4 linked regions of the Homo sapiens genome follow. The protein of the gene in region 4 interacts with the protein of the main gene of each other region in a pairwise test. Each region holds a gene or a part of one and is shown on either strand. Other genes may lie near its edges.

What was found.
Region 1: the proteins of FHOD1 (region 4) and ZMYND8 interact in a two-hybrid assay, tested with the Homo sapiens proteins (one study listed by BioGRID).
Region 2: the proteins of FHOD1 (region 4) and BBS7 interact in a two-hybrid assay, tested with the Homo sapiens proteins (one study listed by BioGRID and IntAct).
Region 3: the proteins of FHOD1 (region 4) and LNPEP interact in a two-hybrid assay, tested with the Homo sapiens proteins (one study listed by BioGRID).

The regions. Positions count from the first base shown.
Region 1 is NC_000020.11:47,346,682-47,353,706, forward strand, and holds part of ZMYND8 (MYND-type zinc finger-containing chromatin reader ZMYND8), read right to left. Parts: exon of another isoform or gene 6,324-7,025; intron 6,060-6,323; exon of another isoform or gene 5,880-6,059; intron 5,069-5,879; exon of another isoform or gene 5,029-5,068; intron 4,598-5,028; exon of another isoform or gene 4,513-4,597; intron 3,308-4,512; exon of another isoform or gene 3,209-3,307; coding exon of another isoform or gene 3,180-3,208; intron 1,246-3,179; coding exon 1,175-1,245; intron 1-1,174. UniProt on the Homo sapiens protein: Chromatin reader that recognizes dual histone modifications such as histone H3.1 dimethylated at 'Lys-36' and histone H4 acetylated at 'Lys-16' (H3.1K36me2-H4K16ac) and histone H3 methylated at 'Lys-4' and histone H4 acetylated at 'Lys-14' (H3K4me1-H3K14ac).
Region 2 is NC_000004.12:121,839,451-121,846,475, forward strand, and holds part of BBS7 (BBSome complex member BBS7), read right to left. Parts: intron 6,247-7,025; coding exon 6,054-6,246; intron 4,552-6,053; coding exon 4,477-4,551; intron 247-4,476; coding exon 181-246; intron 1-180.
Region 3 is NC_000005.10:96,974,071-96,981,095, reverse strand, and holds part of LNPEP (leucyl-cystinyl aminopeptidase), read right to left. Parts: intron 1,959-7,025; coding exon 1,118-1,958; intron 1-1,117. UniProt on the Homo sapiens protein: Release of an N-terminal amino acid, cleaves before cysteine, leucine as well as other amino acids. Degrades peptide hormones such as oxytocin, vasopressin and angiotensin III, and plays a role in maintaining homeostasis during pregnancy.
Region 4 is NC_000016.10:67,230,482-67,237,506, forward strand, and holds part of FHOD1 (FH1/FH2 domain-containing protein 1), read right to left. Parts: coding exon 6,994-7,025; intron 6,902-6,993; coding exon 6,758-6,901; intron 6,634-6,757; coding exon 6,485-6,633; intron 6,253-6,484; coding exon 6,076-6,252; intron 5,954-6,075; coding exon of another isoform or gene 5,930-5,953; intron 5,589-5,929; coding exon of another isoform or gene 5,535-5,588; intron 3,992-5,534; coding exon 3,876-3,991; intron 3,787-3,875; coding exon 3,176-3,786; intron 1,714-3,175; coding exon 1,558-1,713; intron 1,358-1,557; coding exon of another isoform or gene 1,339-1,357; coding exon 1,156-1,338; exon of another isoform or gene 1,155-1,155; intron 1,069-1,154; coding exon 949-1,068; intron 869-948; coding exon 707-868; intron 311-706; coding exon 120-310; intron 26-119; coding exon 1-25. UniProt on the Homo sapiens protein: Required for the assembly of F-actin structures, such as stress fibers. Depends on the Rho-ROCK cascade for its activity. Contributes to the coordination of microtubules with actin fibers and plays a role in cell elongation.

The sequences.
Region 1 (7,025 bases), on a different chromosome or scaffold from region 4:
CTGCAACCTCCGCCTCCCAGGTTCAAGTGATTCTCCTGCCTCAACCTCCTAAGTAGCTAGGATTACAGGCGCGTGCCACCATGCCCGACTAATTTTTGTATTTTTAGTAGAGACGGGGGTTTCACCATGTTGGCCAGGCTGGTCTCGAACGCCTGACCTCGTGATGGTCCGCCTTGGCCTCCCAAAGTGCTGGGATTACAGGCATGAGCCACCACGCCTGGCGACACGCTGTCTTGTAACAATCCTCAAAATGCTTTTGGTTTCAGACGCCTTTAGGGAGTCACTTTGTGCGACACTCTGCAGCCAAATGAGAATCTCCTTCCGGCAGTATGCAGTAACCCTGTCCAGCCTCTTCCTCCCTCCCCATAACCCCCAGTGCAAGGCTGTGTGTTCCAAGAAAGCACTCAGTGACTTGTTGAAGGAATGAAAACACCTTGGTACAACCATTAAGTTTGGAGATGAGCCTTTTCATCAACCAAAGATACGAAAAATACTCCAGTAGCTCATTTGTGAAAGCACCCTGAAGGTAAAAGTGAATAACTGCTTCATTTTGGGAAGCCTCATAAAATCTCTTTCACAAAGACCAAATGAAAAGTACCAATCCCTCAATTAGAAGATATTCAGGAGTCTACTCCAGGCTTGTGAATAAACGCATAAATTGTGTTTGTCCTAATTTGCTAAATTTTGAACTAAATGCAAACACTGGCCCCGGCATCCCAGCAAGCTCTACATTTCCTTTTTATCTCTAACCCAAGACCACCACTTTCCAGTGAAGCGGGCTGACTTCATCCCACTTCTGGGATTCCAAAGAGGTCTGTTGTTAAAATCAGAAAACGAGCAGCAGCTAGAGGCTCTGGTGGCTTCCAGAACATGCTTTATTTAAACTGTGGCTCCTGAAAGTCACCCTGCGGAGAGGTAGCCAGCCACCCTCAGTCATGACACACAGGTAAAATTCACTGTCAGGACCCCTACACAGGCACCAGGGAAAGAAAACCAAAAGGAGGAGAGTTCTCCATCAATTAGGTTCATCCATCAAAAAATCTTATATCTGAAAATCCAAGAAGAGTTACAACGTCGGCTCAGAGAGCCACACACTTCACTGCACTACAACAACAAAAAGAAATTCCAATTTCCTCCTTAGCTCTAGAATAGATAATACAAGATTTTTACTCACCTTTGGAGCGAGTAGAGATATCCATGCCCTCTACCACCTCCTGTTCTGTTTTTATTTCCTCTTCAGCCAAGCTGAAACAGAGCAAATTATGTTCATGTTTAGGAAGGCTGAGAACTTGCCCCATGGGGGCAGCTATTTGGAAGTTCTAGCAACAAACACACCTTAAAGACATTCCCTCATCCTTATCCAGGGCTGGGGGAGGAAACCCACACCTGATTTCAACAAAGTGTGAAGAGTCCTAAAGGAGTTTTTTAAAACACTAGGTTGTTCTTTTTTTTTTTAAGTCAAATTACTATTCCAGTTGTCATGCTATTGGGGAATGCAAAAGGCAATTTTTTAGACACACAATTACAACCTACCCCTGTGGGCCAATGAGAACCCAGCCTTCAAATAAACAAGCTTCTCATTGTTAACACAGGGTTCAAAGGCAGGGAGGTTGGAGGTGTTTTGCAGGGTATCCAGAATTCTGATCGCTGAATACTTTAGGGCAAAGAGTAAGATTTCCCACACCTCCCCCTAAATCTTACAATTCCCTGATGAGGCAGGAACATGGGAAAAAAAAGATACAGGTTAAATTACAAAGCAGAAAAATATGCCCAGCTAGAAGCTAAAGACCTGGTCTCAAAACACTGAACCGAGGAGCACTGATTCCAGCAATCAGACTGGGGTCTCCACACTTCCAACCCCCTGAATGCTTCCTCTCTACAGCAGGCACGGCTTACTACTGAGTTGTGACTAATTATCCCCCACCACAAAAGTGGAATGAGGAAGGATTATTCAAAAGACAAAGGCTAAGAGTGGAGGGTTGGGGAGAGAAGCAAATAAAGCAAGCCCCTTTGCTGGGAGGGTCCGTCACCCAGAACATTCTCTCTCTCTCTCTGCTGGAACTAGGGTTGAAAGAGAGCCGGCCATATCAGATCTTCCTCCCACAGAGAACTCACAAGCTAAACCAAAGGGAAAAAATAGAGTTCTGCTTTCATAGATGCAAATGGTTTGAGGTGCTAGAACTTTCCAAACATTCAGGCTGACACTGAAGTGGTAAGAAGCTGGGCATTTACTCCAGAAGCAATTCCATCAGACTGTCGTTCCACAGGAAGAAATGGGTGCATCACCAATTGATATGGCTGGAATTTTCCATTTGGAAGACTCAACGCCAGGACAGGAAGGAGGCTGGGGAAGAGAGAATGTCCTGTCCTGGGGAAGAGAGAATGTTCCGTGGTCTGGGACTGTGACAACGCAAAAGGCCCAAAAAGACAGCCTCATGTCTCGAACCCTAGTATAAGGAGAAGATTTTAGGAGAGTTCCACGTTAGGAGGAGAGGACTTAGGATGGGAGCTAGATAGAATGGAAAAGATTATAGTTCAGAGTTAAATTATAGGGGCTTGGAGACGAAGAAAGGTAGTTGGGTTTAAATGAGAATATTAACACATTTAGCCATCTGATTTTGAACCCCGTTAACAATTTCATTTACACCGCATCTGTAAAGAAAGCCTGTGACACAAATCACCAAAGAAACAACTGACATGTTGTCACAAATGGTTTTCATCAGGAGAAAGCAGCCTGCTAAATTTAAACACATCGCTTATATGCAATAATACAACGGTGATTTATTGAAGGTTATTTCAGCACTAATGCTTTCTATTCCAACTTAAGGAGAAAACATTCTCAACTCAGAAACACTCTGCCTGAAACATACACAGGTTGTCCAACTGGATGCTGTTGATGGGTTCTGGCTTGGGGTGACTGGAAATACATCTTAACAAAAAGCCCCATGCAGCCCTCGGAGATGGGTAGACAGTTAACTTCAAAGGAACAAATAGCAACCTTGATCTTTTCTAGCAACTAGAATTCTGTTTCCCTCTCTAGCATGAAGTATGTGAAATTCTAAACTTCTTGAAACCGATCCCATATTTTGAGTAATAGAGAAAACGCTAATCTGTGATCCAACTGAAATCTACAGTGGTGAGGGAAACAATTATGCAGAACTGAGCCAAAAAAAACCCACTTGAAGGATTTCTGCAGCGATGAAAACATTCAAAGGTGTATTGATCATGGAGGAAGGCTGCATTCAAGGGAACCATTATTTGGCTTGTAACAGCCTAGAGGAGCTGAATACTTCAGGCAGGAATGCTGCTGAGAGACGAGGAAAATGCAAACTAGTTATGTGGTGGCTATTTGCTTCTGAGTTTTAAGATAATCAATGCTGGAGCAGAAGAGAGAGGGAAAAAAAAGTTAAGCTGTTTTATCTTTCCAAGTATTACAAGTGGGCACCATAATCACCCAACTTTAGCAATAGCACCACCAGCTTTAGCACAGCATTTCAAGCACAACAATTTAAGAAAACCATCTTTTTCACAGATCAGCAAACCATCCTTTCAAAAGGAACCCGTGCACACACATGCACGCACACTCACACACACAATTAACTTGTATTTGACTAAAGGAAACTGCAGTGTCTATGCATTAAAAGGAGAAAAAAAAAAAAAAAAAAAAAAAACTTCATTTACAAAAGCAAAGACCAGAATGCAAAATTAGTCATTTTGAATAGCCACATCTAAAGGGACTTCCTTTTTCCTACACCACTGATTTCGGTTTTTTTGTGTGTGTGTGTGTGTTTTTTTTTGATTTAGTGTTAAGAACTAGTATGTTATTAGGAAAAAAAAATGAATATTACATCAAAAGTAGGCGCAAGAAAAGATCTGTACCTGTCTGAATTGCCCCACTGATGTTGGTCAATTTAGGTTAAGAACTGTTCAGTCATTTGGGGGAAAAAAAACAGTCAAATAATTCTTAAAAAGAAAAGGCAGCTGCATCTGGAGAAAATACTCTGAACTTCTGTCATTAACACATTAAAGTCTTAGAACATAGACAGCTTATTTCCTTCCATATCTGCTAGCTTCCAGCAACCCTGATGATTTAAATCAAAAACAATGGGACAACAAGCTCTTGTTTCAAACTGACATTACTTTTTTCCCTTTAAAGGTCTGTTGAGGAAACTGGGGGCCCGCTACAGAAAAGGGTAAAATTAGCTGAAAAGCAAACAATTTCTCACTCCAATAGGAAAATACACCATCAACTAGTTAGATACATTGTATACACCACCACCTCTTACACTCACATTTACCCAAGTCATTTGCCTGCAGATTTCACAAACTGATACATTTGAGGCAATTCAAAGAAATAACAGTACCTGCAAAGATAACCAAGACCACCCCATCCCATCCCAAAAAGAATAAAAGATTTCTCCCCCAGTGCCTGAGCAAGAAAACCTATGCTTACTTCTTAACCTGCATGCACTGAAAAAAGAGCAATTAAAAGTTGCAGATGAACTACTGCACCTCCAGGATGCTTTAAGCCTTCTGATTGTTAATTCTGAGGACTCAGGGATGGTCCGTAATTCCCAGGAATCTCATCTCCTCAACACTTCCAAGAGAGAGAAAAAAGAAAGCATCTAGTTTTGACAGAAAAATGCCTGAATACACAATGCCCACATATTTCTTTTCCCCAAGTGCCCCTACTATTTGACTTTTAAAGAAGAGTATCTAAGCCATCTAGAATATATAACCAACATGCACAAGACTCTGGTTCTACAGATGAGGATCATCGCACAGCAATTCAAGAATCATGCATCATTCGAAAGGACTTTTCCTGGTTTTTACTTTTCATTCAAAATACCAAAATGGTCCAGGCTGTAAGAAATATTTAATCCCCAAGGCATAACATCTTCCTCTTCTAGATTACAAAATAGTGAACATCAAAATTAAAAACCATGCTTCCCTAAATCTACAATTAATTTTTTAAGAAATTGGGGTGGGGGGGAATGGTTAGCAGAGCAGCTTTATATAAGCACTCACCTAAAACAGGCAGAGTCATCGGTAGCTAAGCTATTTATGCAGGATTCTTAAAATGGCGTCTGGCAACACTGCCTCATTCCTGTGTTGAAGCTAAAATGGTAGCAGTTTGTTCAATAGCTGTAGCTCTTGTTTAAGCAGCCCTGCGAGTTTCAAAGCCACCTTCCTAAATACCAGAACTAGGAAAAGCTGAACCAAAGGACACCAACAACCCAACGTTTAGAAGCTTAAAAAAAACTCTGCAATGACAGGGAGAGTTTGTGAAGTCACAGGTTCCTAAGGAAAAGCCTTCTCTTGTAGATCCTGAGCCTTCAACATGAGGCTCTGTGATGAGGCCCCCTTGCCCTCAAATTAGGTGGGTAGAAGGTTAGGAATCGTGCAGCCCCGTGGCACAAACTGCAGACGGACAGGTGTCTGTGCAAACACAAAAATGTTCCCAGGGAGCAGCCTGGGGGAAGGCAAGGAGGAAGCCCGGTCCCCCTTCTCTTCTCAGTCTATTAGAAACCAGCTTTGCATCCATACCAAAAAGGCGCTAGGTAAAATGAAAGTGCTTCAAGGACAGCAGGCATCTGAAAAGCCAAGCTAAAGGGCTGCACCTCAGTCTACGGCAAAGGTAAAATAAAAAGGCTGTTTATAAGCCTGCAAACAGCCACCAAATACCCAGCCCTCTGAAGCAGCCAGTCCTAAGACAGTTAACATCAAGGAAAGACAATCCGAGTCTGCAGAGGAGAAACACAAGGAAAACATTCCCTTATCCAATGCACAGGATACTCACAAATTAGATTTCTGACCACCCCCAACAGAGCCTGAGAATTAACAATGGGTTTTGCAAAACCCGCTTTCAGAGGCCGAACTAACAGCCTGAGTGGATAACGTCATTTACTGTTACAGGTCTGAGCATTGGCCTCAGAACTCCTCTGGTGCTGGGAGTGAGGAGTTTCAAGGTGACTGCTTTTTAGCTCCAGGGGAGAAAGGAGGGCACAGTGCCCAAGGCCATGCCAGGGCAAGGACGGGCCACTGGCCCCCGCCGGCCGGTAGGTAAGGTAATCGGGATGGGGGGGACAGGCTGGCAGCACACTGGCTGCAGAGCTGGCATGGCCACTGCCTGTTTGTTTGTCTGCAAGGAGAGTGGGAAGTAGCGGGGAGGGTGACCATAACCTTAGCAACCTGAAGCCAAGGGTGAACCCTTGCTCAGATCTTGCATTTTAAGAGTAACCAAAGGGTTCTGAAACATATTCCCTTTTTAAATCTCTGCTGTGCAGTAGCGAAGGCCCCTTTGAATGTATCTTTCTTTCCAGAGTCAACCAGAGGCAAAGCCAGATTGAGGGTTCCCAGGCTGACAAATGTCTGCTGCCTCTGCCACAGGAGAGAGAAGGGGAAAGAGGGCAAAAGAAACAAAGACATCACGCGTTGCAAGTGGCTGGACTTTTAAAAACCTACCTTTGCCTCCAGGGTTTTCTAGGTTACTGTCACCCCACTTCCTAAAAAGTGTCTCCCCCCTCATCCTATTTAAGACCTGATGCAGTCTCCCCACTGGTTCTCCCAGGGAAAGAAAAGGGGAAATGTTTTGTTGAAAATAAAAGGGATGACAAGAAAGAAAGGAAAAAAAGCTATTGTTTTCATCCCTAATTTATAATCCAAGAGGCCCCCAATTGTTTCTTTCTGACTCAAATCTTTGAGCTGTTAATTATAAAAGTAACTGGACTTGGCGCCAACGGGCTAACTATGATCAGGCTCAGCAATTAGAAAAACTCTGTAGAAAGTTTACTGAGTGATTATATATAATTAATTCCTAGTTACAGACTGAACACTGACCATTTTCTGGAGCTAATAAAAGCAGTTACTCCCCCTCCCCCACGTGAATGCCACTTAATTTCCCAAAGCAGAAAGTGAATCCATCCTGGAGGGTCTTGAAGGAAAAAAAAGGAGAGGAATCAAAAGCTTCAGTGTGTCTGTGTTTGCTCCTTGCAGCTGTGTATCCTCTTTGGGGACTGAGGAGG
Region 2 (7,025 bases), on a different chromosome or scaffold from region 4:
AGCAGAGATTGTGGTGTGGGCTAAATTACATCCTAACTGGTCATTCAAAATTCATTACTCCAAACAATTCATTTCAGGGAGAAATTAAATGCAAACAAATAATATCATATGTTGTAAGACATACCAGCAGGAAAAAGGAAATTCAAACATTCAAGTAAAGGTAATTTCTAATATTTTTACCTTGAGTTCCAGCCTTGTAGTATCTGCCTGGCACCGATAAGTGGCAAGAAGGAAGTTGTCGTTTGACTGGGAAGAATACAAAGTGGAGGAAAAGAATGAATCCATGTTTTTAGCAACAAAAAAAAGACATCAATAATAATAATGGTTACCATTTGCTTAAGCACCTGTCATTGGTGCTCAGCGCTTTTCAAACATGTTCTAACTTACACTTACAAAAACTCTATGCACTAAGTTTTACTAATTAAATTTTAACAGATGAAGAAACTGAGGTTATGAGGAGTTAAATAAAAGCCATTAAGTGATGAAACTGGAATTCAAATTCCTATCGAAAGCTCATGCTCTTTCCATCTTGAGTTTTTACAATAACATTTTTAAACATTAAGAATTCTTCTAAAAATCTGACAATGCAAACACCAAATGTGATATGGTTTGGCTCTGTCCCCATTCAAATCTCATCTTGAATTGTACTGCCATAATTCCCATGTGTTGTGGGAGGGACTCAGTGGGAGATAATTGAATCATGGGGCCATTTTCTCCCATACTGCTCTCATGGTAGTGAATAAGATCTGATGGTTTTATAAGGGGAAACCCCTTTCTCTTGGCTCTCATTTTCTCTTGTCTGCCGCCATGTGAGATGTGCCTTTCACCTTCCGCCATGATTGTGAGGCCTCCCCAGCCAGGTGGAACTGTGAGTCCAATAAACCTCTTTCTTTTGTAAATTGTCCCATCTTGGATATGTCTTTATCAGCAGTGTGAAAATGGACTAATACAAAATGTTTATACTGTAAAGGCACATACACCAGAGTTTAATATTGAATCTCTTAGATTTTTCACAAATACTTATACAGGAAAGAGAAATATCTCTTCTCTGTATTCCCAGCAAATGGCACAGTGCCTGGCATACTGTAAGTGCTTAATACATGTTTGTTGAACTAACCTAGAGGAGTTTTTTCAAATATTATAACTTCTTGAAATTGAATATTAAACTACTAGAAATAGAGAAATGTAGCTAGGTTCATGGATTACAAAAAGAGACACAGCAACATAAGATAATTTATATGTAATTTTTGAGACTGCTATTTCTCTATTTTTATTAAATAATCAAAGAAATAAAAAGGATGGTAATATAAAATATAAAACTCAAACATTTCAATTTCAAATCATTTAAACTCAACAGAGAGGACTGATCAATTTAAAAGTAAATATATTCTTTTTTTTTTTTTTTGAGACAGAGTCTTGCTGTGTTGCCCAGGCTAGAGTGCAGTGGTGTGATCTCAGCTCAATGTAACCTCTGCCTCCTGGGCTCAACTGACTCTCATACCTCAGCCTCCCAAATAGCTGGGACTACAGGTGCATGCCACCACACCCAGCTACTTGTTATGTATTTTTAGTAAAGAGGGTGTTTTACCATGTTGGCCAGGCTGGTCTTGAATTCCTGGCCTCAAGTGATCCACCTGCCTTGGGCTCCCAAAGTGCTGGGATTACACGTATGAGCCACGGTGCCAAGCCGTAAATGTGTTCTTGTATGATTAAAAGCAAACGTTATATACTACAGTGTTTATCAATAAATGATACAGATAACATGTTTGGGATGAGGTTTGGGAGTGGGAAGGAGAGGGTGAAGAGCATGAAAAAATGACTGGGCTGGGCATGGTGGCTCACACCTGTAATCCCAGCACTTTGGGAGGCTGGAAGGTGGAAGGACAGCTTGAAGCTAGGAGTTCAAGACCAGCCTGGGCAACAAAGTGAGGCCCCATTTCTACAAAAAATAAAAAATAAAAAAAATTAGCTGGGCATCATGGCATATGCCTATGGTCCTACGTACTCAGGAGACTGAGACAAGAAGATAAGCTTAAGCCCAGAAGTTTCAGGCTGCAATAAGCTATGATCACGCCACTGCACTCCAGCCTGGGTGACACAGTAAGACCCCCATCTTTTAAAAAAAAAAAAGACTAACCATATGTTGAAAATTAGTGATGGGTACATGCAAGTTATTATACTAGTCTTTCTACTTTTGTGTATACTTGAAACCTCCATACGTTTTTTTAAAGCCATTGTCCTAGAAAATATATTTTAAATTAGTATCAAATAGTCATTTCAAAGAATCCTTCAGTGATGTAATTAAAACAGATTAATCTTTCATAGTAACTTAAGAATCAAAGATTTTAAGTTTGTTTTAAGTTTACTGATTTTCTAAATAATCATAAAAATGTAGGCCATATCTTTTGTGTTTTGTTCTCAAACAGGAACGACAAACCACATATTGATAATATAATACAACTGTTATAAAATCGCTTATTAAAAATAAAATTTTTACTATGAAGTTATATTGAAAAACAGGCTGGGCACAGTGGCTCACACCTGTAATCCCAGCACTTTGGGAGGCCAAGGCCAGTGGATCACCTGAGGTCAGGAGTTCAAGACTAGCCTGACCAACATGGCAAAAACCCATCTCTACTAAAAATACAAAAATTAGCCGGGTGTGGTGGCGTGTGCGTGTAGTCCCAGCTACTTGGGAGTCTTGAGACAGGAGAATTGCTTGAACCTGGGAGGCGGAGGTTGCAGTGAGCTGAGATTGTGCCACTGCACTCCAGCCTGGGTGAGGAGTGAGACTCCATCTCAAAAAAAAAAAAAAAAAAAGAAAAAGAAAATTATTCTTTTATCTATCAATATTTTACTTTATCTACTCTTTTATTCCTCCTTTTTAAAAATATATATATAAGGCCAGACGTGGTGGCTCATGCTTATAATCCCAGCACTTTGGGAGGCTGAGGTGGGAGGATCACTTAGGCCCAGGAGTTTGAGACCAGCCTGGGCAACATAGGAAGACCCTGTCTCTACAAAAAATTTAAAAATCAGCCAGGCATGGTGGCTTGTGCCTGTAGTCCCAGCTACTTGGAAGGCTGAGGTGGGAGGATCTGCTTGAGCCAAGGAGGTCGAGGCTGCAGCGAGCCATGATCACGCCACTGCACTCCAGCCTGGGCAACAGAGCGAGACCATGTCTTAAAAAAGTAAATAAATAACAAAAACCAAATAAATAAAATATATTCTGCAACAGTGCCAATGCATATAAATAAAATAAAATATATATTAATATAACTAACCACCAACTCCAGTTACCATCTCCTCCTGCTCTGGCTTGCCTTCTACAATGCAATTAATCCAAACCTTATCTATACCTTGACTTCTCTTCAGGAGTCACACCTAGCTCTGAGACTGCTTATCGGCTAGTACTAAGCAGAAAGAAGTGATACAGTAAGCATGTCCAAAAGCACTGACGTGATCATCTCAGGTACTGTGCACGTTAAGTGCTCAATAAAAGTCTGTTGAATGAAGTTTAGTATGCATTCAACAAGCCTAGAAAAAGTGGGGCAGGGCAGGAAGAGCGGGGGAAGCAACAGATCATGTTCCAATGCAGGGATGTGTGAAACTATATAGCATTTTCAGGAATTTTAAGAACTTCAGTTTGGCAGAAATAATGTGCATGGGAGGGGTGGTAGCAGCCGGTGAGAGAGAAGTTAGAGATGTAATCAAGAGCTGAATCATGGAAAGTTTTCTATGCCACAATAAGGAATCTATATTTATATCTAGCAGGAAATCAGGAATATTGAAAAGGTTTTGAGAAAAGAAAGATACAGTGATGTTCGTGTTTTAGGAAGGAAGACGTCTCTGGTGGTAGTGTACATACAGCATATCCTAGAAGTCAGAGGCAAGACTAGAGGCAGAGAAACTTATAAAGTAGTTCAAGCAAGACATGATAAGGGCCTGGACTAAGTTAACAGGGGTAGGAATGAAGCCAAGTGGAAGTATGAAAGCCATGGAGGTAGAACTGACAGAAACTAGTGACTAATTGGATATATAGGCTGAACATTCCCAAACTGAGTATCTAAAATGTTCCAAAACTCTAAACTTTTTGAGTGCCAAGATAATACTTTAAGGAAACGCTCATTGGAGCATTTCAGATTTCAGATTTTCAAATTTGGGGTGCTGAACCAGTAAATACAAAACAAATATTCCAAAACCTGAAAAAAATCCAAAATCCAAAATACTTCTTGGTCCCAAGCATTTCACATAAGGGATATCAACCTGTAACAGATCACAGAAAAGAAGGAATCTAGGACATCAGGTTTCTCGACTGAGGACAGGGAAAGAGAACCGACACAGATTTTGAAGGAAAGGTTACATAAGAAATAATTGAAAAAGAAACATCAAAACCTAGCAGCATCTATAGACTTTAATCAAAATGGCATAATAGAAATGAAAGCATGTGAAGAATTCTTTTATATTTTTACTCACCTCAGAATCACAGCTGCTAAAGCTAACAACAGCAGAATTTTTATCCACATCAAGTAAATCTATTGGAACATCACTCTATAGTCAATATTAAAAAAAAAGAAGGTTGAGATGGAAAACCTAAAAATGTTCATAAATTATGTTTTCTCTAAGAGTTCTCCTTAGTTCTAGTTTATATTCATCTTTAAATTTGAGAGTATGAATTCTCTTAACTTATACTTGATAGTATATACTTCCAGAAAATAAATATAATAAAGAATAAATGTTATTTTACAATCACCTGCTTTTTTCTAACTTGGATTATAAAAATCACAGAATAACATCTCTCACCACCCCCTTAAAAGTCCAATCATCCCACTTATTTTTATAAAGTGCTAAAAATGTTACCATGAGCTATAAATAATCACATGGCCATTCTGATTGTATCAGTTCATTTTTATCAGTTTTAATTTTACCTGTAACACAGAAAGAAGATAATTTTTGGTCTCCTCTGGAGAGGCAGTTTGTAGGACAAAGCTGTTGCACTGTCCTATGTGAATGGCATTCCTAGAGTTGTTCAATGCAACAGCCCGTGAGCTAGCATTACTTAAGAGAGTTTTCTGCCTTTAGGTTTTTTTTTTAATAATCTGATCTCTCCATTACATCTTTTTAAACCTTTTCTTCCTCCAATTTGTTATGTTCTCATTTTGTGATTGGTTTACTACCTTTTGTTTGTTTTCTATTCATCCTATTATTCTTTTCTACTTCCTGAATACCTTCTAATTTAAATAAGTCAGTAAATATATACATTGATGAATGGAGTCATATATTATTATCCCTAAATTTCACCCTTTAGTATTCTCTACTTTGCCTGTTGACCTACCAGAAACTGTTGGGTTAATGAGCAAGCTGTACTTTAATGTTTGGGGCTTTAAAAAAAAATGTTCTAGCAAGGGCATTAAATATGGTAGTTTTCTAAGTCACATCTCTGTTAAGATTCTCCCAGAGGGTAGCCAAAGAAGAAAAACCTTACTGTCTTTTCTAACTCTTCTTAAAACTGAAGCCCATCTTTTGTTTGTTAAGTACATAAATAAAAAGTAAAAATATAATTCAAATAATCTGTGAGCAAACCAATTATCTAAAGGAAGAATAAAAGGCCATAAACATTTAAAATTACTGTCTATGACTGGGTGGGGTGGTTCACGCTTGCAATCCCAGCACTTTGTGAGGCCGAGGCGGGTGGATCACCAGAGGTCAGGAGTTCAAGACCAGCCTGGCCAACATGGTGAAACCCCGTCTCTACTAAAAATACAAAATTAGCCAGGTGTGGTGGCACATACCTGTAGTCCCAGCTACTCGGGAGGCTGAGGCAGGAGAATCACTTGAACCTGGGAGTCGGAGGTTACAGTGAGCTGAGATCGCACCACTGCACTCCAGTCTAGGTGACAGAGTAAAACTCTGTCTCAAAAAAATAAAAATAAAAATAAAAATAAAATAAAATTACTGTCTAAAACTAAAAATGTTCAATAATAATTAGTACATATGACTGGTTTGCAAAATAGATCCAGTCATAAAACTAAGAAATTAGACATTTTGCTTACCTGTATTAAGACATTATCTATTGCAGTCTGTACCTCTAAGATAAGGCTGTAACTGGCATCATCTTTATTTAGTGTAAATTTATCATTTATACCAAAGGAAGGTACTGCTGATTTTGCTTTGCTTGATTGAGAAGACTGTTGATAATTCTCTCTTTCCTGCAATACCTTATACTGCAAATGTTCCAACTCATTCCTGGAGAAAAACACATACAAATTTGTCAAATATAAGTATAAACATTTGAGGTCGTTAGGATGTTTACAAAAATTTGAGACATTTGCTTTTACAAAATGGGTTTTTATTGGTTGAGTTAATAAAATAAAAACAAAGGGAGCAAAATTTTTGCTTCTATGACTGACTAAATGATTCCACATTATTTATCCTTAACCCCAAAATTAAAATATCTACTCATTCCCATACTAGCAATATTAATAGAGAGTTTTAAATATCATGGTAGGCTACAAAATAATCTTAACACAGGAATCTTGTTACAGTTACATAAAGTACTAATCAGAAGAGAAACTTCTTATACTAATGAGAAGAGAAACTAATATTGCAGAACATATTAGTCTTAATGAAAAGAGACAAAATGTGTGAAGCCAGTAAACACGTAACTTTCAGTAAGACATTAGGGGAGACATAAAAAATAAAAAGGAAGCTGCAGAGCATTAGCATTTTGGGGACCACAAGGATGATCATGAGCCAGTGGTATGGCTTAACTACCAAGAGTTAGAGAGGATTCTGCTGAGACTGAACTACAGCATTGCTTAGAGCTCCAGTTAAGGGGAAGGGCCACATGCAAATGGAGTAAACAGTCATTGGGATAGAACAACATGAGGCTTAACTAGCCACAGTTTAGGAGGAAAAGTCTAGGGAGGAGCTTAGAAGGGATCTGTGTAATGAACAAAGGAAAAGATTCATTCATCAAAGAAATATTTACTGCTAAATATTACATATTTACTCCTATGTACCTA
Region 3 (7,025 bases), on a different chromosome or scaffold from region 4:
ATTTCCTGGGGATAATAGGCATTATAGAAGGAGAACTAAAGGCAAGAACTTTCAAGTTCCCATTGCAATTATACATTTGTGTTCAATCCCAGATCTCACGCAAGAATTGAAATGCAGGGCCAGTATGCCATTTATTTTAAAAGTATTACATAGAGGGAAAATAAAATAAAAATTATTTATCTGAATAGAATTATGGATCTTGCTTGGTCTCTTTCTCCATTTAAGAAGGATCAAAAAGTTTCCTTTAGATGTAGAATACTCATTTCTAACTATTTCTCTTAATATGTCAACATACATTAGCCAAATGGTCAGCATCAGTAATTCACATATTGTTTTACAGAGTAATATGAGAGAATGTTCCAATTGCATAAAGCAGATGTCGTGAGGATTTTGTGCACAAGACAACTGATATCACTGCTACTTAAGAATAACCTCCATACTGTGTGAACTCCATCTTCCCAGAATTTCAAACTACATGCTATGAATGCTAAGATTAAAGTACTAAATATATAGTCCAAATAGGGAGCTGAATAATTTTATATTTTGTCTCACCTTTTTTTCTGAACCAAATTAAGTCTCTCCTAGACCTTAAAAAAAATTTACACCAGAAATCCAAAATAGACTGGCATTTTAAAAAATAATAAACCAGTAAAGATTAAGGATATTAAAAATGATATATGTAAGCACACCACACTTCACACTTCTTCATGCCCTCTTTCTGTATTTCACTAAGTACCTCCTAAAAGTTCTGCACATTAGGAAAATAGGTCTTAAAGAATAACTCCTCTTTACTCTGCTTCCCAACAGACTTCATGAGGTGACAGAAAACTAGATTCACCTTAAAAATGTGAAAAACTCAAGATAACAAGTTTTGGATATAATCTTTATCCATCCTTTTCCACCAGCACACCCCTATCTCCACCCCACCATGATATATGCTCAAGGCGTTGACTAAGAGAGATAATATATTGTTCTAAATCACCATTCTACTATTTTGTATATAACTTCCTAAATTAAAAAAAAAAATCACAATTCGTGTCTCTGGTGTGGACAAAGGGATCTATATTGCAGAAGTTATCAGAGCGTAAAACCAGAATCATTTAAGAGGGCTACCTACTTTTTCTCATTACTTTCATCTGTGTAGGAGAAGCCATAAAACCCATAATAAGAACTAGATATATTTGCCGAGTACTCTATCTTCAACGTATAATTGTGCCCTGCTAGAAGGGCTTCGGGGGCAACAATGGCGATCTGTCCATGATATGCATATTCCAGGATCTCAGCTTGTTTTTCTTGGCTTGAAACTGCTGACATAAAGGTCACTCTTGAAATATTATGACCTGTGCTATGAAGAATGATATTCCATGTGACCTGAAGAGCCTGAACTGAAATTGTCACAGAACCCCTGAATGTCATCGAGGTTAGGTTCGGGTGTAGGCTGAGTTCATAGCGTAGTGGCACAACGGCAGTGGGAAGCCTGATCTGTGCCCATGGAAACAATTTCCCATTTGTTGCAAATGGCTGAATTAGTCCAATTGACTGGTTTTTTTTATGGCAGCCTTCTTTGGTAAAGGTACATCTGGGCAGTAAGTAAATCACCATGATTACAGAAACAGCAACCACGATGACAAAAGCACAGACCACCATGGTCCTTGCAGAGGGTACTGAACAAGCCCCATCTGGGCTCTGCCTGTAACCAGTTGCACTGTTCCGAAGGCCTGAGCTTCTATTCATGAAGGACATGCCCAGCAGCTTTGCTGATGACTCATAATCCTCTTCATCCTCCTCCATCTCATGCTCACCAAGACCCCGCACCAGCAGTCGGGAACCCCGGGGCTCATATTCCACCTCATCAGGCTCTAGAGGATGTAAACAAGGCTCTTTGGCTAAATCCACCACATCTGGTTCTTCCTCAAACATGCTGTTTTCAATCATATTCCTGGGGAGCTGAAGCCGATCTAAAAAACCAAAACATAAGAACAAGGCACAGAGTTAGAAAAAAAAAAGCTCATAATATTAATAACATGTCTTCTACCTAGACCACATTTAAACTAAGAATTTTTTTAAGTCACTAAGACTTATTTCCATCTCAGAGCTACTGAATTAAATAAGATGTTTATACCATTGAGTCATCCATTAAAAACTAAAACATAAATAAAAGTATACCACAGTTATGAAACAAGAAAGCTAAATAAACAGGCTATTATATTTTTAAAAAGTTAGCTGAGATAATATACTAATTTCCTTAATATACTCCTGCCCCACAACCTGGGACCCTGCCCTGGGCTTGAGAGGGCACTGTTTTGGCATTCCTCTGACTATGTCTGTCCCCACCAGGCGAGGAGTCAGTAGGATCAAAGGGATGTGCCCACCTACAGTCCACGGTTCCCCTTCTAGGGTTTGGGCACTGCAATCCCAGAATTTCTGTCCAACAGGCCTCAAATCTGCTTCCAAGGTATTTGTGGGTCTCATCCCTGAGTCTCATTCTCTCTAGGGAGCACCACAAGCTGGTATGCCCATTTCTAAGATTGAGTATGGCTAAGCAACAGGATGGGTTATTGTTTTCCCCTGAAAGAGGAATGTTTCTGTCCCACAGCAAATGGGAAGCAGCAAATTATATGGGAAATTTCCATAAGCAAGAAATGATTTTTAAAAAGATCAAAAGACAATAAAAGTCAGATAAAATTATAATTCAATCTGTTTTTCATGCTTCCATGGCTTTCAGAAGTACAACATATTTCCATGGGAAACAACCATACTGCACACCATGAGTGTTAGTGGATCTCAGTGGGAGCTTTTACAAACTACAACAAACCACACCTTCCGATTTGCCAAAATCACTGAGAAAAAAGACTCTAGAAGTAGAAGGGTCGATAATCCCCCATATATCAGTACTTCCTAGGATTAGATCGTTCAATGTTTTTTATTTAAAATTCATACAATTTTAGTTTTTAAGGGATCTCAAAAGTTATCAAATTGAAACCTCCACTAATCTTCCCTACAAGGGAAGATACTTTATACCTATCATTTCTAACCCTTACAACAATCCTATAAAATGGCAAGTATTCTATTTTAGACATGAGAAAATAGAAAAAGAGAAATAGATTAATTCGTCTTCATAAAGTCACACAGCTATTTAGTCATAAAACTGATATTAAAGCACAGGTCTAAAAATTTGATTCAAAAGTTTATGCTCTTTTCATTATATTGCATCCCTCTACTCAAACTAATTCAATAAAAGATGAGAGCCCTGAATTATTTATTTCATACCTGGCAATGAAGTTGCTAAGAGTATTATTTCACCATCAGGAGAGCAAAGCTTACAAAAAACTACTGAATATCTAGCTTAAGATAAATGCTATGTATTTTGTGCTATTCAACAAACACTGTAATGGTGGAAACTCTTCATCCATAAAACATATTATTGATAAATATTAGGATAAAATTTGCAGTTTTGCTGTTCAGTGTGGCCTGTGACCCTGCAGCATTTGCATCACATTGCAGCTTGTTAGAAACGCAGCCTCTGAAGTCTCCACCTAGAATACGAATTTTAACAAATCCTCGGGTGCTCACGTGCACTTAAGTTTGAGAGGCACTGGTATAAGCATCTTCCATGGTCAGATCCCAGCCAGCACTAAATACCATTCCTGAGTATGCTCTGGCCATCCCAAACTGCTTACTATTTTGAGCACAGGCCAGGCAGCTATTCCACGCTATCCTCCACATGTCTCTTTTTCTTTTCTCTTCCCTCTGCTTGCAGTGTCATCATCTCCCTTTCCCATGCCCATCCACCTGGTATTCCGTACCTCAGCTTAACTTGCTACAACACAAATTAAGAAAAGTTATGTTTTTTTGTTTTTCCTTTGTCTTTATTACCTTTAAAAAATAAACTTTCTTTTCATTTCACTTCACCCATTTCTGCTTTGGGGAGCATATGGATCACAATGAGGTTACCTTTTCCTGACTCCTCTCCAACCTGAACTGTATACAAGTTATGCTACTTTAAAATTTTTATTTGAATAAAACTTCTAATCATTTTCTAGGTATGAGTTTAGCATTCTGCCATCTACCCATCTACTATGAAAGAAGAAGGGTTCTAACATACTGCTTTTGGGAATATAATCTCCTAAACTTCCTATAGTGCCCCAATTTCTTGTTAAAAAAAAAAAGTATGTTCTGTTTTGATAGTTAATAGTGTTTTGGGTCATACACTTCATTAACAGAGCAAATATTGCTGTATTCAATTTTTTAAAATTGCTTTTAAAACTCTTAATGATTAGAAAGTTTCTGTAGTAGTTTTTTGGTTCCTGGCACACTGCTGTAGACTAGCTTAATTTTTTTTTTTAATTTAAAAATGTCTAAAAAGGCCTTTTTTGACTTTTTTACCACACATGGGAAGATTATGCTCTCAGGCATTTGCCCCATGTGTTTTGTTCTGTGTCAGGCCTACTGCAGACAACAATGGGTTCTGTACAGCATGGTTTTATTTACTATATTTCTGAACTAACTCCAGGTACAATCTCAGCTTAATATTTAGAGCATTCCAATCTCTCAATTCTGTCCCCTTAGAACTTTGTTGCTGTGTTTTTTTATTCTTCTGCCATGCCATTTAAAGCCAAGAGATATTCTACAGTTTGACAATTTGGTATCTCCTGTCTGCATGTCATTAATTTCAAATCTTCTGACAAGGGCTTAGTCAGATGCCTGCCTAAATCCAAATAACTTACTTTTATTATTTCACTCCCAGTCAGAATAATACCAACGTAGAATTTTAATCTTTCAGAAATGGAGATCACATCAACCCATTTGCTATATTTCACTGTGCAATATAGAAGCACAGTTTTTTTTTTGTATGCACAATCATATCAAGTTAAATATATCAAATCAGGGAAAATCACTTTTATTACAGGTATCCCATGAAGATACATGAAGGTACTTCAAGCCTATTTAAGAAAATGTTGATTTGATTCTTAAGTCAGTACACTTTGATTTTGGCATTAAATTGTAACATAACACATGATTACCCCTTGCTCGATGGGATTTATTCCTACTGAAAGAAGGGATCCTAAAGAAACAGGGAATTTTCTAAAACCTCTTAAATCCACATATAGAAGCTATCTATAAGTCAAAGCAAAGAACCTTCTACTGAAATGTTTCAGTTTTAAATAACATAGGCCCATGTGGTTATAATCTAAGAGAACTGAAGACATTTCTTTTCATCAGATACTGTGAACTAGCATTCCTCAATGTTGTTTGTGGACCAGTGCCAATGTGCAAAAGTGTGACCCATCTGGGACAGGATATACATAGACTATTAGTACCCAAAAACTTTTATGACAATTTGACAGAGTAATTTTTATGTGTATTGAATTTAATAATGTATAAAACTGAGCTATTTTTGTATGTCTTTTTTCATTTCATTTTTCTAATTAATTTTTTTATATGCTACAAAATTTCTGCAACAGATTAAAAATTAAAAAAACAGAAACAATAAACCCTGGTTCTTCAGCTCAGATAATGTGAGAAGCAGTGAGTTAGACTGTCACTATAATGGCAATAACAGTCAAGATAAAGTTCTTAACTATGTCAGTAGCAGTGAGAATAAAGAGGAGGGTATGATTACAAGTCACGTCAAAAAGGTAGATGCACAAGAACTGATACTACCTCGGGCTAGATGGACCTGCAGGGTAGGAGACAGAGAAAAGTCTATGTCAATTCCCTTTACATTCCAACTTGTATAACTGAAAAGAAGGAATGTCATTCACTGAGATTGAGAATATAGTCTTTCACATTTTCTAATTTTTTTTGAGGCAAGGAAGGAGAACAGGATTATGAGATGGCATTCAGTGTAGGATATATCTGTCAGATAACCAGGTGGAGATGTTTGATTAATAGAGTTAAAGGCCTGATTTTAGGTAGACGTTAAAATCCTGGCTTTTCCACTGACTTCAAACAGGTTACCTTTCTTAGCCTCAATTTCCTCACCTATAAATGTGGGAAACAGTGCTATTTTGTAGAATTGTTAAAAGGATTATGTTACGTGGGTTTAGAGCTCAAGAGAGTGATCTGGGTGGAAGATTCAGGTTTCCGAATCACCTGTGCAGATATGGTCATTAAAACCATGCAGATAAATGAGACTATCGAAAGGGAGACTCAGGGAGGATCAGCATTTAAGAGCTGGGTGGCCAGAGGAAGAAGGTCAGCAAAGGAGAAGAAATGGACCAAAGGTAGGAAAATCAGGAGTGGCATCCCAGAAACCTAAAGCTTTCATAAAGATGAAAGTGGCCAGCATTAAATATTTTAGAAAGGTCAAGTAAAATGAGGCCTAGAGAGACCCTTACATTTGGTAACCAGGGAACCAGTGACTTTAATAGTGAGAGTAGAAGCCTGATTCCAGGGGCCCAAAGAAGAAATGGAAAGTTAACAAAAGAAAACAAGGACTGCAGACTATTCTTTGAAGGTATGTAGTAGTTTATCAAGGAAAAAACATAGGGATAAACTAAAGGAAAATGTGGTATAGACAAAACTTAAATCCTTTTGTTTTTCATTTGTCTGTGTTTAAGATGGGAACAACTTGGGCATGTATTTCTGCAGGAAAGGAACAGTAAAGAAAGACAAAATGTGGAGGTGAAGGAGTAGGGGAGGGAAAATGCTGGCGTAGCATCCAGAGGGACAGGGAGAGTGTACAAGAAAATGATGGGAGCTAGGTGCTCTCCCTCCAAGCCTGGAGGACAGGAGGTAAAGACAGAGAAGAGGCATGTGCATGGGCACAAAACAGCAGAGAGCCTTCATGTTCTCTGTGACAAGTGCAAGCAAAGACATCTGCCCAGAGCTAAAGGCAAGTTGTTGGGAAGGCATAGGGGCTTGAGCAGAATGAGGGACAGGTGCCATAGGAGAGGGCCAAGGAGTGGTGACCCCAAGACAAGCATGACTGAGAAGGTCAGAAACCCCAGTGGAATTTGTCATACCACAAATCTCTAAAAAACATCTTCAGCACTTCTTACCAGCCCAGGTCTAAAAGAAGA
Region 4 (7,025 bases):
CAGGTAGAGCAGGAAGGCATGGAACCTAGGCAGGTCAGAGTAGGGAGGGACAGTAAGTCCTGCTTATTGTCTGAGGGAGGGTGGTGGCCGTCCTGCCTCTCTTGGGTCCATGCCCCTACCTATTGCAGACACGGCGGTGCACTATCCTTAGCATGGCAACACGGCGGGCACACTGGTCCAGGAAGTGGGTGAGGCGGGCACGCAGGGCTGGGGCCAGCTCATGCTTGGCCAAGCTCCGCAGGCTCTCCTCGGCTGCCCGGCTCCGGCGCTCCAGCTGCCCCAGGTTCTCAGTCAGCTGTTCAAAGTCCACCTGAGAAAGCAAGGGGGTGCACATACTGTCCCCCCACACCCTGTAGACAAGACATGGCCCGAGGCTGCTTCTGGGCCAGAGTGGCCAGCTTGGGCCCTAAGGACACAGACATCCAAATCTCATAGACTAGTGCAAGAGACACAAGTCCATCTGATGTGAATGGGGAGCAGAAGGTTTACTGGGGGAAGTGGCAGTTAAACAGACCCAAAGACTGAGTAGGTGTGGCCAGGCCAATAGAGGAAAGAGCATTTCTGGCAGAGGGCATAGCTCACACCCAGGTGGCTGGAGCAAGCCCTGGCACAGCAGCCCAAATGGGGAGAAGGGGGAGGAGCCAGGCCCAGGAAGCAGCGCTCCTCATGCCTTGTCCGGCCTTGGTTGATTCTGGCAGGTGCTAACCTTGGCACAGCGGGTCAGGGCAGGGATTTCTGAATAGAGGTCAGAGGACTCAGGCCGGGTCTGGAGCACTAGGGAGCAGAGATGGTGTAGCAGTGACTGTCGACGCACCGTGTCCTTCACCTCTGACACCTTCTCCAGGTAGCTCAGCTCAAAGCCGCTGCTCTGAAAGGACCCTTTCTGAGCCTGGGCCTGGTTGGCTCCAGAACCCTGACTCCCCCTAGTCCCCATGTACTCTCACTCACCTGGGAGCCATTGAGGAAGTTGCCCACCGCTAGGAGGGTAGCCAGGATGCAGCGGAAGGTGGCATTCTGTACCAGCTGTTCCATACCCACTTTCAGGTCAAACAGTGGCTCAGCAATTTCCTGGTATGGGAGACCAGGGACTCTCAGACTACATGGTCATGATGCTTACCTGTCCCTACTGACTGTCCCACTCCAAGACCCAGGTACCCGCTCCATGCTGTCATAGTCCAGCTTGAAGGCCCAGAGTTGTAGACGAGCAGCGAGGCCGCCAATGGAGGCAAGAGTCATCAGGAAGTTCTCGGCTGGGCCCAGGGGTATGTCAGGGTTGGCCAGCTGGGCTTCCTCAATCTTCTGCCGCTCTTCCTCCGTGGGCATCATGGTCAGTAGCTTCTGAGGATGTAGCCAGAGCCTGACATGGCCCCCTCAATGCAGGCCTGAGGCCTGAGGCATTGGTCTTGACCCCTCAGTCATCTAGGGGAGGCCCCAGTGTCTGGGGACTGCCCTGCAGAAATGCCAAGCCCATGCCCACCACCAGAGGGACAGGAAATGCCCACCTACCAAAGGAGAAGGCCAGACCTCCCCCCAACACCCATAGCTGGGTGACCTCACCTCAATGCCATCCTTGCTGACAGCAAACTCATCAAAGTTGAGCAGAGCAGCCTTAATGACATGCACAGGTGGCAGTGTGGTTAGGCCGATGTTGATGGCGTTGCTGCGCTTGGGGTCCAGCACTGTGGTCATTGTCCGGCGGCCCTCTCCAGCTTTCTGCATGGTTGGGGGAAGGGCAGTGTAAGACTGAGGAAGGGGGCCTGACGCGGTGGCTCACGCCTGTAATCCCAGCACTTTGGGAGGCCAAGGCGGGTGGACCACGAGGTCAGGAGATCGAGACCATCCTGGCTAACATGGTGAAACCCCATCTCTACTAAAAATACAAAAAAAATTAGCTGGGCGTGGTGGCGGGCACCTGTAGTCCCAGCTACTCGGGAGGCTGAGGCAGGAGAATGGCGTGAACCCGGGAGGCGGAGCTTGCAGTGAGCTGAGATCACACCATTGCACTACATCCTGGGTGACTGAGCAAGACTCTGTCTCAAAAAAAAAAAAAAAAAAAAAAAGACTGAGGAAGGGACTAGCTGGGACAGCAACCTCAGAGGGCACTCCAAGGCCCTCCTCTAGATTGCCAAATGATCCCACAACTGACAAACTGGCAACCTGGAATGTGTAAGTCATGGGGATGAGCTTAGATTCTTTTGAGACAGGGCCTGGCTCTACCATCTAGGCTGGAGTGCAGTGGTGCCATCATCGCCCACTGCAGCTTATCTTCTGGGATTTTCCTGCCTCAGCCTCCCAAGTAGCTGGGATTACAGGCGTGTACCACCATACCCAACTATTTTTTTTTTTAACATTTTTTTTTCCGCCTCCCAGGTTCAAGCAATTCTTTTGCCTCAGCCTCCCAAGTAGCTGGTATTGCAGGCATGAGCCACCACGCCCAGCTCATTTTCATATTTTTAGTAGAGACGGGGTTTCACCATGTTGGCCAGGCTGGTCTCAAACTCCTGGCCTCAAGTAATCTGCCTGCCTTGGCCTCCCAAAGTGCTGGGATTACAGGGGTGAGCCACCATGCCCGGCTAATTTTTTTTTTAACATTTATTTATTTTTATTTATTTAGTTATTTTTGAGACGAAGTCTTGCTCTTGTCCCCCAGGCTGGAGTGCAATGGTGCGATCTCGACTCACTGCAACCTCTACCTCCCGGGTTCAAGTGATTCTCCTGCCTCAGCCTCCCGAGTAGCTGGGATTACAGGTGCCCGCCACCACGCTTGGCTAATTTTGTGTTTTTAGTAGAGACGGGGTTTTGCTAATTTGACCAGGCTGGTCTCGAACTCCTGACCTCAAATGATCCACCTGCCTCGGCCTCCCAAGGTCCTGGGATTACAGGCATGAGCCACTACACCCAGACCAACTTTTAGTAGAGATAATGTCTCACTATGTTGCACAGGCTGGTCTCAAACTCTTGGATTACAGGTGTGAGCCACCATGCCCGGCCACATTTAGATTCTAGTTGGGGCACTGCTGATCCCTTGTTAGGAGACCTTGGACAATTTCCTACTCCTTTCTTTGCCTTGGTTTCCCCATGTGGGAAGTGAGTGACTAGCTCCAACAGGTCAGATCCTTAAGCTCTGATTCCCTCCTGCCTCCCTTGGGGCTACCTTGCAGATGAGTGGATTTACCTTGGAGGGCAGCACCTCTTTGGCACGAGACTCAAAGAGGTGTTCCAGTCGGGCCGTGTCCACTGAGACAGGGTCCAGTGAAGCCCAGAGGGTGGCGCAGGGCCCAAAGCGGCTTGCAGAGACTCCATGGCCCCCAGCCAGCTTCAGCTCACGCCAGAAAAGTTTTACTGTCTTCCTCTTAGTGGGGAGGGCTGAGCTGTCAGGCACTGAATGGGGAAGAGGGGCAGCCAGAGGTAGAGGTGGAGGTGGTGGGAAGGGGCCTTTGATGGGTGGGGGAGGTGGAAGTGGGGGAGGGGGGGGTACTCCCGAGAGCAGGGGCAGTGGGGGTGAGGGAGCTGGGATGTCTTTCCCAGCCTCCACAGACTCTACATTCAGCATGTCCTGGTCTTCATCCTCCCCTAGATCTGAAAAGTCCAGGTCCCCAATAGAGAGCCTGGGTGCACGGGTAGGGAGCTCCCAGATGGGCTCAGCCTTGGGGCTTGCTGGTATCAGTGGCTCCTTGGGCTCTGGTGCAAGGCTTCGCTGGGCCCGGAGCAGGACACAGGGGGCAGGGCTCTGGGGTGTTCTGGCTGCAGGGGCTGTCTCTGGGGAGTCCCAGAGTTGCCGGGCATCTAAAGAAAGGGAAGGAGCTGTCAGTGCCATGCCCCCTGTGGGGCAACAAAGCAACAGGCAGGCTCTGCCTGCTCACCCACCTACTCACCTGGGTGTCCACCCGCCTCATTGGGCATGGCCCCGGCAAGTGTCTCTGCCCGGCCCTGGGCCAGCGCAACCTGCTTCTCTGTTTCTGCTGCCGCCACATTCTCCAGGAACCGGGCTCTGAGGGAAGGTGCTTGTCACTGACAGCGTCTGACACACCCCAGCCCAGGTGTACATGCCTTGCTGAGCCCCTGGACACCACCCCCAATTGCAGGCACGCACAGACACACAGGGAACAGTCCATGCGCTGAGCAGACCAGAACCACACCCCCCCCAAGGCCAGCCCCTCTTCAGTCCTCCACATCTGGGGAGGATTACTACCAACCCAGCATTCCCAGGTGAAAACACAGGGAGAGGATCTACTTAACATCTAACTTGCAACCTCGTTCATGTTCACTGTCCTGGTTTTTTTTTGGTTGGTTTTTTTTTTAGAGACAGGGTCTCACTCTGTCAGTCACCCAGGCTGGAGTACAGTGGTGTGATCATAGCTCACTGCAGCCTCACTCTCCTGGGCTTGACCCTCAGCCTCCCAAGTAGCTGGGACTACAGACATGTGCCACCACGTCCAGCTGATTTTTTAATTTTTTTGAGGAGACAGGGTCTCACTGTGTTGTTCAGGCTGGCCTTGAATTCCTGGCCTCAAGCAGTCCTCCCACCTCAGCCTCCTGAAGTGCTGAGATTACAGGTGTGAATGATGCACCCAGCCAAATTTTAAAAAATTTCTTTGTAGAGATGAGGTCTTACTGTGTTGCCCAGGCTGGTGTCTTGAGTCTAGACAAGGACTCTTAGAGCAGGGGAAGGGGATAGCTGTCCCAATGGGCATATCAGGCTGTCCCTCCCTTGGCATGTCTGGTAGCTTCTGGGAGCCTATGCCCAGGAAAGGGCCTGGTAAACAGGCCAGGTGCGGTGGCTCACGCTTGTAATCCCAGCACTTTGGGAGGCAGAGGTGGGTGGATTACTTGAAGTCAGGAGTTCGAGACCAGCCTGGCCAACATGGTGAAACCCTGTCTCTACTAAAAATACAAAAATTACCCAGGTATCCTGGTGCAGGCCTATAATCCCAGCTACTTGGGAGGCTGAGGCAGGAGAATTGCTTGAACCTGGGAGGCAGAGGTTGCAGTGTGCTGAGATCACACCACTGCACTCCAGCCTTGGAGACCGAGCAAGACTCTGTCTCAAAAAAAAAAAAAACAAAAAAAAAACGGATGTGGTAAACAGTGGACCCTCAGTTTATGCTGAAATAATGGGTGCAATCCAGTGTTTCTTTTCTGGCCCCTCCAGCCTCTGTCAGCTCTCAGTCCCTGCCTTTCCCTCAGCCTTAGGTTACCCCTCCACCCCCACACCACACACCACACAGCACCCTAGGTCCCCTCCCTGCTCGCTTCTGAGCTGAAGACTTGGCAGAATGAGCCCCAGGTTGGGTGTCCACATCCCCATCTCTGGCTGCTAAGGTGTTGCTATTGAAGCACAGGGACCACTGTGACCCCAGTGAATTGGTTCCCAGTGCTTAGCCTTTGGGTTACCGAGGAGGCATATGTCTGGGAGAGGATAGGCCTGAGTCCCCCAGCTTTGGTTGCATCAGGCACGTGAAACCCCTGCTGGGGGAAGCAATGCTGAAGCCCTGAGCACATGGCAGGCCTGGCAGGCCGGCCTCTGTACTTACTCCAGCCTGGCCTGCCCAGGAGGGGACTGGGGGACGGGTGGGCTCTCAGGGGCCCTGGGTAGGGGGGATGAGAGGAAGAGATGGTAACTGTGGTGTCAGCTCCATGGTTGCTCATACCCACACAGAGCTAGGCAGTGATATTGGGGTTCCTTCCCAGCCGCAGTGGGAAGTGGGGGAAGGTATGACACGAGGAAACTGGAAGTGGAGGGGAGAGACTGACGTGGAGCAGGACAGGGTGCTGGAAGAGACAGAGGCAGCAGAACAAGGGAGTGACAGATAGTGGGCGGGAGACATGACAAGAGGCAAAGACAGGCAGAACGTCGGAGGAGACAAAGGAAACCACAGGAGGAGGAGATCCAGTCAGAGCCGAACCCCACCCGCTGGCAGTCACTTACCAAACGGAAGCAGTTTGGTGAAGTCTGGAAAGAGAGAGAGAGAAAGCACGCGTTTGGGCAGAGGAGGCTGAGTGCCCATGGAGGGGCGCAAAGCGGAGGGACAATGGGAGAGAGGACTCCAGGGTGGCCTCTGTCTCCCTACTTACTTGTAGATGCTCCTCTCGCTGGAGGTGTCAGCTGAGGGTGCCACAGAGATGGTAGGAAAAAGGTTCACTGAAGCTTGGAGACCGGAGGGAGGGCCCACAGGGCTGGAGGCGGGGCCTGTCAGCAGGGCGGGGCCGGTGGAAGAGGTGGGGCCTACCGGTGAGGCGGGGCCTGTGGGGCTGAAAGCAGGGGCTGTCAGTGGGGCGGGGCCTGAGAAGCTGGAGGCGGGGCCTGTCAGTGGGGTGGGGCCTGCGGGGCGGGAGGTGGGGCATGTCGGTAGGGCAGGCCCAGTGGAGGAGGTGGGGGCTGTCTGTGGGGCGGGGCCTGAGGGGGTTGGGGTCAGGGCCTGTCAGCTCACTGGGCCATGCCTAGTAGATCCACCCTTTCCCATCTACAGATGCTCGTACTTACCCAGGTTCCGGGGCACGCGCGGGGCAGCCCCCGCCTTCCAGAGAACGGCGGCTCCTCTTGCCCTCCTCAGAAGAAGGCTTTCGTCGTTCCCGCCGCCCACCAGCGCCTGGGGCTTCTTCGATGTCTCCATCCTCCAATTTCAGGGCGTTCTAGCAGAGGCGGACCAGGATGTAAGAAAGTGGTTAACGTGTATGCAGGTGGGGTGGGGCGCTGGGGACTGCGCTTCTCTCTTCCCTCTTTCCAATCCGCCTCAGAGCGTAAGGCCCGGCCCACCTCGTAGAGCACAAGCTGCGTGCGCAGGTCGACGTCAGTGCCCGCAGTGCCCAGGTGGCGCTGGACCAGCGCTTCCATGCCCTGCTGCTCCAGTGCATCCGTCACATCGTAGAAGGAGTCCTGGTCCGGGAGCGCCGCCAGCGTCTGGAGGGCGGGGATAAGAAGGCAAGGCTGAGGTTGGTGGGGAGGTCAGGAGCCTGAGCATCCCAGAGCTGGCACCCAGTCCTTGGCCACACCTTGTTGATGAGGGTGACCGTGTACACCAACA